2 linked regions of the Homo sapiens genome follow. The protein of the gene in region 1 binds, or shares a complex with, the protein of each later gene. Links are inferred from orthologs where the notes say so. Each region holds a gene or a part of one and is shown on either strand. Other genes may lie near its edges.

Region 1 (8,154 bases):
CACACACACACACACACACACACACACTGCACACTAAGGCTGGACACAGCCCCTCTTCAGCCCAGGATCTCATCGCAGTAATGAAGAGAGAGCCCCCCTCTCTCTCTAGGGTCCTCCAATACCATCCCCAGTCTCCTCACAGTGGCCCCTCATCCACTCATCATTGGTCTGTTGGGCTGAAAACTTAGGTTTCCAGCCTCCCCATCTCTTCTTTCTCTTGGGACTGGACCCTGGAAAACCATCTGGCCCCCCTCCCACACACCATGCCCCTGTGAAGGGAAAATAAAAACTTGGGACCCTAATTCACTCTGCCAAAAGGAAAAATCAAGCTGGAAACTGAGTCATGCAAGAAGCTGCCTTGCCTTTTATTCCTAAGCAGATAGCGACAGATAAAAGGTAAAATATCCCACAGGCAGCTCCTCTATGTTCACTTTCCCTATGTAAAGAGCCAATTTACTGAACCGAGATAATTGACTGTTCCCCTACCTGCTGCTTTTCTTTTGCAACATGTGGATTACCACAACCTCCCCTTTTCCCCTCCAGCCCACTTTCCCCTTTAAATATTAAAGCCCTCGAATTCATCCAGAATGGCACAGACCACAGAATGTTTTTGTGACTCCATGTTTTTTTCTCGCCAGCATGTCCTTAACCTTGGCAAAATAAACTTCTAAATTGATTGAAGCCAGGCACAGTGGCTCATGCCTGTAATCCCAGCACTTTGGGACGCCAAGGCAGGGGGATCGCTTGAGTTCAGGAGTTCGAGACCAGCATGGCCAGCATGATAAAACCCTGTCTCTACCAAAAATAAAAAAATTAGCTGGGTGTGGTGGCAGGCACCAGTAATCACAGCTACTCAGGAGTGGCAGAATTGCTTGAACCCCGGAGGCGGAGGTTGCAGTGAGCCGAGATCCATGCCATTGCACTCCAGCCTGGGCAACAGAGCAAGACTCGGTCTCAAAAAGATAGAAAAAAGAAAGAAAGAAAGAAAGAAAGAAAGAAAGAAAGAAAGAAAGAAAGAAGGAAGGAAGGAAGGAAGGAAGGAAGGAAGGAAGGAAGGAAGGAAGGAAGGAAGGAAGGAAGGAAGAAAGAAAGGAAGGAGATGGAGTCTTGCTCTGTCGCCTAGGCTGGAGTGCAGTGGCATGATCTCAGCTCACTGCAACCTCTGCCTCCCGGGTTCAAGTGATTCTCCCACCTCAGCCTCCTGAGTAGCTGGAACTACAGGAACCCACCACCACACCCGGCTAATTTTTGTATTTTTTAGTAGAGAGGGGGCTTCACCATATTGGCGAGGCTGGTCTGAAACTCCTGATCTTGTGATCCACCCGCCTCGGCCTCCCAGAGTGCTGGGATTACAGGTGTGAGCCACCATGCCTGGCCACAAGACTCCATCTCAATAAAAAAAATAAAATTAAATTGAGACCTGGCTCAGATACTTTTCCGTTTTTGCCCCACAGGCAGGTTGTGGGTGTAAGGATAGGACAAGGCAGTGAAATCAAACCTGTGGGACTCTCTGAGATGAAGGGGGTGGCGGGTACACTGTGTGTGCATTTGTCAGACCTCATTGAACTTAAGAACCTGTGCTTTCTACTGCATGTAAGTTACATTGCAAAATAAGAAGTCCAGGCCGGGCGCCGTGACTCACACCAGTAATCCCAACACTTTGGGAGGCCAAGGCAGGTGGATCACCTGAGGTCAGGAGTTCGAGACCAGCTTGGCCAACATGGTGAAATCCCATCTCTACTAAAAATACAAAAATTAGCCAGTCATGATGGTGTATGCCTGTAATCCCAGCTTGGGAGGCTGAGACAGGAGAAACACTTGAACCCGGGAGGTGGAGGTTGCAGTGAGCCGAGATTGTGCCACTGTACTCCAGCCTGGTGACAGAGAGAGACTCTGTCTCAGGAAAAAAAAAAAAAAAACCCAAATACTCAAGCTCAGTGTGATTGCCTGGGCCAGAGAAGGATGGTCAGTGGGCCATCTCCTCCTCATCAGGGACCAGAAGCGCCACGGCCTTAGGGTCCTTCTGTGAAGAGGCCAGTATGAGGCTGTCCTTTCTCCCCTTCAATCCCCATCCTCCCCCAAGGTCCCTTTGAATAAGCAGGCAATAGAAATGTGTTTGTTGGGCCAACAAGCCAAGCACAGCAGCCCCTCACCTCTAGTCATGTTCCCTCCCAGATGGAAATTCTGCAGAACTGCTACAGCCTGGGGACCTCCTGAGACTTGGCAGCCTGTGTCTGGGAGGGCTCTGGTCCAGGAGACCCTCACTGGCCTCTTCCCAATCCCTCCTCTAGCCCTATACCTATTTCACCCCGAATTCCCCTCTCCTGAGCCCTGGGCCAGAGAGGCCAACCTCTTGTCTCTCCCCTCTGACCCCTTACACAAGCCACCCAAGGAAGAACCACCACCCCTATCAGGCCCTTCCAAATCAGATCTTGCATAGAATCATCGAATCACAGGCTGGCAGAGCTGCCAGAGCCATCAGGAGCTCTCCAGGTCCTCCCAACTCAGTGTAGGTCTGGACCAGCAGTGCCGGCATCTCACATCTCCCAGGAGTGTGTTGGATATACAGAATCTCAGGTCGCACCTGAGACCGACTGAGTCTGAATCTGCATTGTAACAAAATCCTCAGGTAACTTGTATGCACAGGAAAGTATGAAAAGCACTGCTCTGGTCTAGTCTATCACTGTCCCCCTGCCCCCAACACCTGCAATTGAATAGAAGTGGACACTGAAGCCTCAAGAGTATCAGAGGCTTGCTCAGGACACACAGTGAGTCGCTGGCAGAGCTGGGACAGATCCACAGCACCAGGTGGACCAGTTCCACCACACCCATCTCTTTTCACCCCACTACCTCTCCAAAGCAGATACCCACAAGCCTGCAGTCCAGTGTTGGGGAGACTAAAACAGCCTGAGGACACCCAGTGAGGGGCAAGGACTGAATCCTTTCACAGGGGTCTTCTCCATCACACCCCAACAAAGTCCCCCACCCCCCGTTCTGCTCTTACCATGCCAAGCTGTGGCCACCAGCAGGAGCAGCAGAACTCCTGGGCCCATGGCCTCGGTGGGGAAGTGGCAGGCAGGTGCAGGGCTGCAAGGTGCCCAGGGCACAGAGCTCTCAGCTACTAGCTCCGCAGGGATCGGGACACTGGACACACGTTCCTCTCCTCTGCACTGGCTGTTTGTCTTGTTTTCCTCTTCCTCCTCCTTGGGCTGATCCTCTTCTTCCCCTTTTAGCTAGGCAAGGCAACCACAGAGTTTGGAAATCTTGGGTCTTTAAGAAGAAAACAAAGCCTTGAACCCAAGAGGGAGGGGTCGCAGTCTGGGGCAGGGCCAGCCTGAGCTTGGGGGGAGCTAGCTAAGTTTGGGGCCCTTCTAAAGCCATCTTCAAGGGGTCTTGGGAGAAGAGACATGTCCAAGAGCAGCCAGACCGTTAGTCAGTAGCACAAATGAGGGTCTTCAGAGTGATCAGGTGGCTCTGGCAGATCCCAAAGAGAAGTTAGGTTGCATGATATTGTGACATATATATTTTTTCTTTACCCTGATGTCCTGGCTTACAACTCCTAAAATCCTTGGAATCTCCAAAGTAATGCATATCTTTTAAAAATTTATTATTATTATTTTAGAGACGCAGTTTCACTCTGTTGCCCAGGCTGGAGCTCTGTGGCTCGATCATAGCTCACTGCAGCCTCAAACTCCTGGCTCAAGCCTTCAAGCTGTGAGATCTGACGTTATCTCTAGGTAAATATAGTGTTCAAATTGAATCGGAGGGCACCAGATTCGTGTCTGCTGCAGAATCTGAACAATTGGTTGATTGCTTGGTGTATGGGGAAATATGCCCCATCCTCTACATCTGGGGTCAGAAGTATTTTGTGTTGTGAGACTATAGGAGAAACGGAGTTTGTTTTCTTCCTGTATACAGGTTGGTCTGGGAGAGCCTGATAATATTGGCAATAAGCTTCCTTTTACAGGACATTTACTAGCCAAACCTTTTACATTCACTGTCTCCTTTAGTACTGCAAAACTTTATGTAGGTAAGTACTATTGTCATTCTCATTTCACAGATGGGAAAACTAAAGCTCAGAGAGATCAAATGCCTTAAGCTTGTCCATAGTCAAACAGCTACCAAATGGTGGAGATAGGATTTGGATCCCAGCAGTCTGGTTATAAAACTATCTTTTGTGCGTTACTTACATTGTTTATTTATTTTTACAAAGAATCTAATTGTTCTGCATAATTCTTAAAATATATAGCATTCCTTTGCTCCCTCTTTTCCTGGAGGCAATTGCTTTTACCTCTTTTAGTTGATTCGCTTAGTATTTTACTTCTTATCTCTAAAGAACATGGTCATTTCTTCTTCTTTTTTTCTTTTTTTTTTTCTGAGACAGGGTTTGGTTCTGTCACCCAGGCTGGAGTGCAGTAGTGTGATCTCGGCTCACTGCAACCTCCACCTCCCGGACTCAAGCCATCCTCCTACCTCATCCTCCTGAGTAGTTGGGACTACAGGGGCATGTGCCACCATTCCTAGCAAATTTCTGTATTTTTGGTAGACATGGGGTTTCACCATGTTGTCCAGGCTGGTCTCAAACCCCTGAGCTCAAGTGATTCGCATACCTTGGCTTCCCAAAGTACTGGGATTATAGGTATGAGCCACTATACCCAGCCTAAAGTTCCTTCTTGAAATTGAAAAATCCTGATATAACATTGATCCAGGAAAATGATCATTCCCGTGTACTCAGGTGTGTGTGTGGTGTGTATGTGTGTGTTTGTATGTATATTTATGAGTGTATATATGTACTTTCTTTTTCAGAAAAGTGTTTTGAACCTTTAGCAATCATGAATGTCAATCAAAGCTGACTCAAGAAGAAAAAGAAAATCCAAATAAACCTATAACAAGAAAAGAAATTTAATCAGTAATCAAAAACCTCCCGACAAAGCAAAGCCCAGGACCAGATGGCTTCACTGGTGAATTCTCCCAAACATTTAAAGAAGAATTAATACCAATCCTTTTCAACTCATTCTATGAAGCCAGCATTTTTCTGGTACCAAAGCTAGACCAAGACATTGCCAGAAAAGATAACTACAGACCAATACAAATGCATGAATATAGAAAGCAAAAATTTTCAAAAATGTACTAGCAAACCAAATCTTTTTTTTTTTTTCTTTCTTTCTTTCTTTTTTGAGACAGGGTCTCACTCTGTCACTCAGGCTGGAGTGCAGTGGAGCAATCTCGGCTCACTGCAACCTCTGCCTCCCGCGTTCAAGCTATTCTCGTGCCTCAAACTCCCGAGTAGCTGGGATTACAGGCATGCGCCACCATGCCCAGCTAATTTTTGTATTTTTAGTAGAGACAGGGTTTCACCATGTTGGCCAGGCTAGTCTTGAACTCCTGACCTCAAGCAGTCTGCCCATCTTGGCCTCCCAAAGTGTTGGGATTACAGGCGTGAGCCACTGCACCCAGCCACCAGCAAACCAAATCTAACAGCATATTAAAATGATTATATACCATGATGAAGTGGGATTTGTCCAAGAAATACAACAGTGGTTTAACACATGAAAATCAGGGTAATACATCACATTAATAGAATGAAAAAAATCCTCATATGATCATGTCACTTGATGTAACTGTAAAACCCAACATGCTTTCATTAAAAACAAAACAAAACAAAACCCACCCAACAAACTAGCAATAAAAGGGAACAGCCTCAACGTGATTAAGGGCACATGTGAAAAAGCACAACTAATTCAATGGTAAAAGACTGAGAGCTGGTCCCTTTACATCAGGAACAAGACAAAGATGCCTGTTCTCGCCACTTCTGTTCAACATAGTACTGGAAGTCCTAGCCAGAGCAATCAGGAAGAAAAAGAAACAGAAGGCATCCAAATTAAAAAAGAAGAAGTAAAACTATCTCTGTTCACAGATGACATGATCCTATATATAGATAAATCCTAAAAGATCTACAAAAAGCAACTATTAGAGTTAATATACAAATTCAGCAAACCTGCAGGATACAAGATCAACATACGTAACTCTATAGTACTGATAATACTCCAATAAGGAAATTAAGAAAACAATTTAATTTGCAATAGTATCAAAAATAAAATATTTTGGAATAAACTAAGGAGATGCATGACTTTACAATGAAAACTACAAAACACTGTTGAAAGAAATTTAGAAGACCTTAATAAATGAAAAACCACCTTGTTTTCATAAGTTGGAGGATTTAATAAGACAGCGGTACTCTCAAAGTGAGACTGATTTATAGGGTCAATATAATCCCTATCAAAATCCCAACAGCCTTTTTCTGCAGAAATGGAAAAGCTGATTCTCAAATTCATATGGAATCTCGAGGGACATTGAATATGCAAAACAATCTTGGAGGAGTCACACTTTTCAATTTCAAAACCTACTATAAAACTACAGAAATCAAAATAGTGTGGTATCAGCATAAGAATAACTATATGGATCAATAGAATAAAATTGAGAGTCAGGAAGTAAACTCTCACATTCATGGACAACTGATATTCAACAAGGGTGGCAGGACCATCCAATGGAGAATGACCAGTTTTTTCAACATAGGTGCTAAAAGAACTAGATAGTCACATGCAGAAGAATGAAGTTGAATCCTTATTTTACATCACATATAAAAATTAACTCAAAATGAATTAAAGACCTAAATATAAAAGCTAAAATTATTAAAACCTTAAAAGAAACCATAAAGGTAATATTCATGACCTTGGAATTGGAAATGATTTCTCAGATATGTTTCTAAAAGCACAAGCAACCAAAGAAAAATTGGACATAATAAAAATTAAACATTTTTGTGCATCAAAGGACACTGTCAAGAGAATAAAAACACACAGAATGAATATTTATATCCACAATAAATAAATATATCCAGAATATATACAGAATGAAAGTTGTAGTGTTTCCTCAGCAAAAATCACTCTTGGTGCATAGTTCTATGAGTTTTGACAAATATATATAACAATGTAACCACCACTGTAGTCAAGATATAGAACAGCTCCATCACTCTAGAAAATGTTTCTCATGCTGCTCCTTTATAGTAAAGCCCTCCCCAAACCCCTTACACCAAACAACCACGGATCTGTTCTCCATCCCTGCAGTTTTGCCTTTTCCACAATGTCTTTGTGCTTTACAGGATAATGTCATATAAATGGAATCATACAGTGTGTAGCTAAAGAATGTATGTAGAATCACGCAATATGTAGCTAAAGCCACTCTATTGTCCCTCACAATTAATAAATATTTATGGGAAAATAAATTTTAAAAAAGAATGAAAGTTGTAGTGTTGCCTACAACAACAAAAAAACAATTAAATTTAAAAATAGGCAAATTCAAATATTGCATGTCCTCACTTATAAGTGGAAGCCAAACAAAGGGTCCACACGGATATAAAGATGGAAAGAATAGACTCCAAAAGTGGAAGGATAGAAGGAAAGGGGAAAGGGCAAAAAGGAAGTGAAAAATTACCTATTGGGTACAGTGTTCAGTATTTGGGTACTGGGTACACTGGAAGCCAAATTCACCATTATGCAATGTACCCATGTAATAAACATGCACATCTACTCCCGAGTCTAAAATAATTTTTTTAAAAAACAGGCAAAACATTGAATAGATATTTCTCCAGAGCACATGAAAAAATACTCAATATCATTAGTCATTAGGGAAGTGCAAATCAGAACCACCTTGAGATACCACTTCATATCTACTAGGATCATCATAATAAAAAAAATCGGATAACAAGTGTTGGTGAGGATGTGGAGAAATTGGAACCTTTGTACAATGTTGGTGAAAATGAAAAATGGTGCAGCTGCTATGGTAATCAGTTTGACAATTCCTCAAAAAGTTAAACATAGAATTGTCATATGATCCAGAAATATCACTTCTAGGTAAAACCAAAAGAATGGAAAACAGGGACCCAAATAAATACATGCACGCAAATATTCAACGCAGCACAATTTACAGTAGCCAAAAGGTGGAAACAGTTGACAGCTAAACAAAATGTGGTGTGTCCATACAATTGAATATTATTCAGCTATAAAGGGAATGAAATACTGGTACCTGCTACACTGTGGATGAACCTTGAAAACACTGTGTTAAGTCAATGAAGCCAGTAGCAAAATGTCATACGAC
Region 2 (3,930 bases), on another chromosome or scaffold:
TGGTCTCCAGGCCAGGCACCAGTGGCCTTGGAGAGATTGAGTGCCAGCCCCTAGAGTGACTGCTGCTGTGATTTGAGAAGTGAGAGAGAGAAACATAGAGGCAGAGACTGAGATAGGGACTCAGAGCCACAGAAAATGCAGACACCAGCACCTCAGCCCTAAGCAGCTAGAAGATGGGGCAGCAGGCTGGAACTCGCTCACTGGGTCCTTCTCCCCTCCTGGGCCCTAGCTGGGCCTGTGGCCTGGCTGTACCCAGCATGGCTCATGTCCAGTTTATGGTTCCCCTTCTTTCCCTCTAGAGCATGGGAATGGGCAGGGAGCCAGAGGCTGTGGTTCCATCTTCCCTCCTTACCCAGTAGGGCCTATGGATGTTAGGGAGGGAGGCTCCACACAAGGTCCAAAGTCAAACTGTTGGATGGGGTCCAGGGGATTTCTGCTCTGGGAACAAAGCGTCCTGAGGATGCTGGGCAAGAGGACAAGGATGGGGGTGGAAGGCGAGAGGACAAGGCCCTGACTCCCATGGATGATGCGGGAGGCAAGGCCCTCGGCCCATCCAGGAGGGGCTGGGTTGCTTAGGGGTCGCGTGCCAAATGACAGTGTGGGAATTTCCTTGTCCTGGCACTGCCTCTAGACTTTTCCTCTCTGGCCCAAGTTGTTCCTCTTCAGCTAGCTCTGCCCTACTGTCTTGAACATCATATGTGATGCCCCTCTGATGAAATGAAAGATTCTTCTTTGCTAGTGTTAGCAGGAATCACCCTTTGTTCACTGGACCAAGGCCAATGAGATGACCTCGCCTGAGGAGGGGTCCAAAGACATTCAAGTGCCCGCTTCGCTCCTTGTCAGAGCCCTCTGCTTGAGCAGTAACCCCTCTTCCCAGCCCTGCCCAGACCTCTCCCGGGCCCCGTTATCTTCCACTGAGGCCCTGATTCCCCAGGAGGAGGTAGGAGGTGAGGCCAGTTGGGCCAGAGGCCTGGGCTGGTGCCAGAGAAAGCTGCCTGGTCTCTCTGTGGTGTCTGGAAAGGCCAGGGAAGGGAGGAAAGGAAGTCCTGCCTGCAGCACCGCCAGCAGCCCACAGGAATGCCACACCTCCCAATCCATGTCCTCAACGACCCTCCCCGCATTCCCACTCTGCTGACTAGCCTTTCCTTCTCTCCCACAGCTGGACGCACAGAACAGTCTCTCCGTGGGAGGAGACATTATGGGGCGTCCACCACCACCCCTCCCTGGCCATCCTCCTGGAATGTGGTCTGCCCTCCACCAGAGCTCCTGCCTGCCAGGACTGGACCAGAGCAGCCAGGCTGGGGCCCCTCTGTCTCAACCCGCAGACCCTTGACTGAATGAGAGAGGCCAGAGGATGCTCCCCATGCTGCCACTATTTATTGTGAGCCCTGGAGGCTCCCATGTGCTTGAGGAAGGCTGGTGAGCCCGGCTCAGGACCCTCTTCCCTCAGGGGCTGCACCCTCCTCTCACTCCCTTCCATGCCGGAACCCAGGCCAGGGACCCACCGGCCTGTGGTTTGTGGGAAAGCAGGGTGGACGCTGAGGAGTGAAAGAACCCTGCACCCAGAGGGCCTGCCTGGTGCCAAGGTATCCCAGCCTGGACAGGCATGGACCTGTCTCCAGAGAGAGGAGCCTGAAGTTCGTGGGGCGGGACAGCGTCGGCCTGATTTCCCGTAAAGGTGTGCAGCCTGAGAGACGGGAAGAGGAGGCCTCTGGACCTGCTGGTCTGCACTGACAGCCTGAAGGGTCTACACCCTCGGCTCACCTAAGTGCCCTGTGCTGGTTGCCAGGCGCAGAGGGGAGGCCAGCCCTGCCCTCAGGACCTGCCTGACCTGCCAGTGATGCCAAGAGGGGGATCAAGCACTGGCCTCTGCCCCTCCTCCTTCCAGCACCTGCCAGAGCTTCTCCAGGAGGCCAAGCAGAGGCTCCCCTCATGAAGGAAGCCATTGCACTGTGAACACTGTACCTGCCTGCTGAACAGCCTGCCCCCGTCCATCCATGAGCCAGCATCCGTCCGTCCTCCACTCTCCAGCCTCTCCCCAGCCTCCTGCACTGAGCTGGCCTCACCAGTCGACTGAGGGAGCCCCTCAGCCCTGACCTTCTCCTGACCTGGCCTTTGACTCCCCGGAGTGGAGTGGGGTGGGAGAACCTCCTGGGCCGCCAGCCAGAGCCGGTCTTTAGGCTGTGTTGTTCGCCCAGGTTTCTGCATCTTGCACTTTGACATTCCCAAGAGGGAAGGGACTAGTGGGAGAGAGCAAGGGAGGGGAGGGCACAGACAGAGAGGCTACAGGGCGAGCTCTGACTGAAGATGGGCCTTTGAAATATAGGTATGCACCTGAGGTTGGGGGAGGGTCTGCACTCCCAAACCCCAGCGCAGTGTCCTTTCCCTGCTGCCGACAGGAACCTGGGGCTGAACAGGTTATCCCTGTCAGGAGCCCTGGACTGGGCTGCATCTCAGCCCCACCTGCATGGTATCCAGCTCCCATCCACTTCTCACCCTTCTTTCCTCCTGACCTTGGTCAGCAGTGATGACCTCCAACTCTCACCCACCCCCTCTACCATCACCTCTAACCAGGCAAGCCAGGGTGGGAGAGCAATCAGGAGAGCCAGGCCTCAGCTTCCAATGCCTGGAGGGCCTCCACTTTGTGGCCAGCCTGTGGTGGTGGCTCTGAGGCCTAGGCAACGAGCGACAGGGCTGCCAGTTGCCCCTGGGTTCCTTTGTGCTGCTGTGTGCCTCCTCTCCTGCCGCCCTTTGTCCTCCGCTAAGAGACCCTGCCCTACCTGGCCGCTGGGCCCCGTGACTTTCCCTTCCTGCCCAGGAAAGTGAGGGTCGGCTGGCCCCACCTTCCCTGTCCTGATGCCGACAGCTTAGGGAAGGGCAGTGAACTTGCATATGGGGCTTAGCCTTCTAGTCACAGCCTCTATATTTGATGCTAGAAAACACATATTTTTAAATGGAAGAAAAATAAAAAGGCATTCCCCCTTCATCCCCCTACCTTAAACATATAATATTTTAAAGGTCAAAAAAGCAATCCAACCCACTGCAGAAGCTCTTTTTGAGCACTTGGTGGCATCAGAGCAGGAGGAGCCCCAGAGCCACCTCTGGTGTCCCCCCAGGCTACCTGCTCAGGAACCCCTTCTGTTCTCTGAGAAGTCAAGAGAGGACATTGGCTCACGCACTGTGAGATTTTGTTTTTATACTTGGAAGTGGTGAATTATTTTATATAAAGTCATTTAAATATCTATTTAAAAGATAGGAAGCTGCTTATATATTTAATAATAAAAGAAGTGCACAAGCTGCCATGTGAGTCGTGGGAAAGTTGCTTTTGGGGTGTGGGTGGCAAACATCAGGGTGGGTGGGCAGCAGTTGCCGGATGAACCCCAGCTCAGAGAACCTTTTTCCACAAAACACAGGGGAGGAAGGTTCTCTCCAAGTTTCAGTCTTGGTACCAAAACCTCCTGTATTATTGCTGTCCCAAACACATTCATCTGCATATCTGCTCGTATTGGGCAGAAAGTGGCCAAACATCAGGCCTGGTCACTGGCCCCTGCTCCTGCCCAGCCTAGCCCAGCCTGGGAAAATGGCTGGTTGGGCTCTGTCCAAGGGCCCCGGCGGCCTGCAAGGATAAGGCTCCTTGACTGCTGAGCCCTGCTGACCAGGGCAGAGGTTGCTGGCTAGGTCCTTGCAGACTCTGAGGTGAATGAATTCTGTTTCCAGGCTGGGAAGTGAGTGTGGTTAGCAGGGGAGAGCCAGGAGTCCGTGTAAGGGCCCTCGTTCGGGCTCGACCTTCCTACTGGAGCTGGAGAGGAGACTGAGGGTGTGGCTTTCCATGGGGAGAGGGGTGTTAGGCAGGGCCAGAGGAGTTGAAGGCCCAAACATACACCCTGGGCAAAGCTATGACAAGAGGGGCCTCCCCATCCCTGAGGGAGT

The links.
Region 2: the proteins of CSF1R (region 1) and CSF1 are in contact, whole or in part, in a crystal structure (PDB 3EJJ), measured with the Mus musculus proteins. The link is inferred for Homo sapiens from one-to-one orthologs. Residues at the interface, in NP_001032948.2 of Mus musculus: Arg142, Arg146, Leu149, Arg150, Lys151, Lys168, Val169, Leu170, Ser172, Asn173, Val231, Gly232, Phe233, Leu248, Ser250, Asp251, Phe252, Asp254, Asn255, Tyr257, Lys259; in NP_001107002.1 of Mus musculus: His38, His41, Met42, Gly44, Asn45, Gly46, His47, Phe87, Gln90, Asp91, Asp94, Arg98, Asp101, Glu110, Arg111, Gln113, Glu114, Leu115, Asn117.

Annotation. Positions count from the first base shown.
Region 1 is NC_000005.10:150,083,375-150,091,528, forward strand, and holds the start of CSF1R (macrophage colony-stimulating factor 1 receptor isoform a precursor), read right to left. Parts: upstream 3,181-8,154; 5' UTR 3,054-3,180; coding exon 3,005-3,053; intron 1-3,004. UniProt on the Homo sapiens protein: Tyrosine-protein kinase that acts as a cell-surface receptor for CSF1 and IL34 and plays an essential role in the regulation of survival, proliferation and differentiation of hematopoietic precursor cells, especially mononuclear phagocytes, such as macrophages and monocytes.
Region 2 is NC_000001.11:109,927,693-109,931,622, forward strand, and holds the end of CSF1 (macrophage colony-stimulating factor 1 isoform a precursor), read left to right. Parts: intron 1-1,159; 3' UTR 1,160-3,300; downstream 3,301-3,930. UniProt on the Homo sapiens protein: Cytokine that plays an essential role in the regulation of survival, proliferation and differentiation of hematopoietic precursor cells, especially mononuclear phagocytes, such as macrophages and monocytes.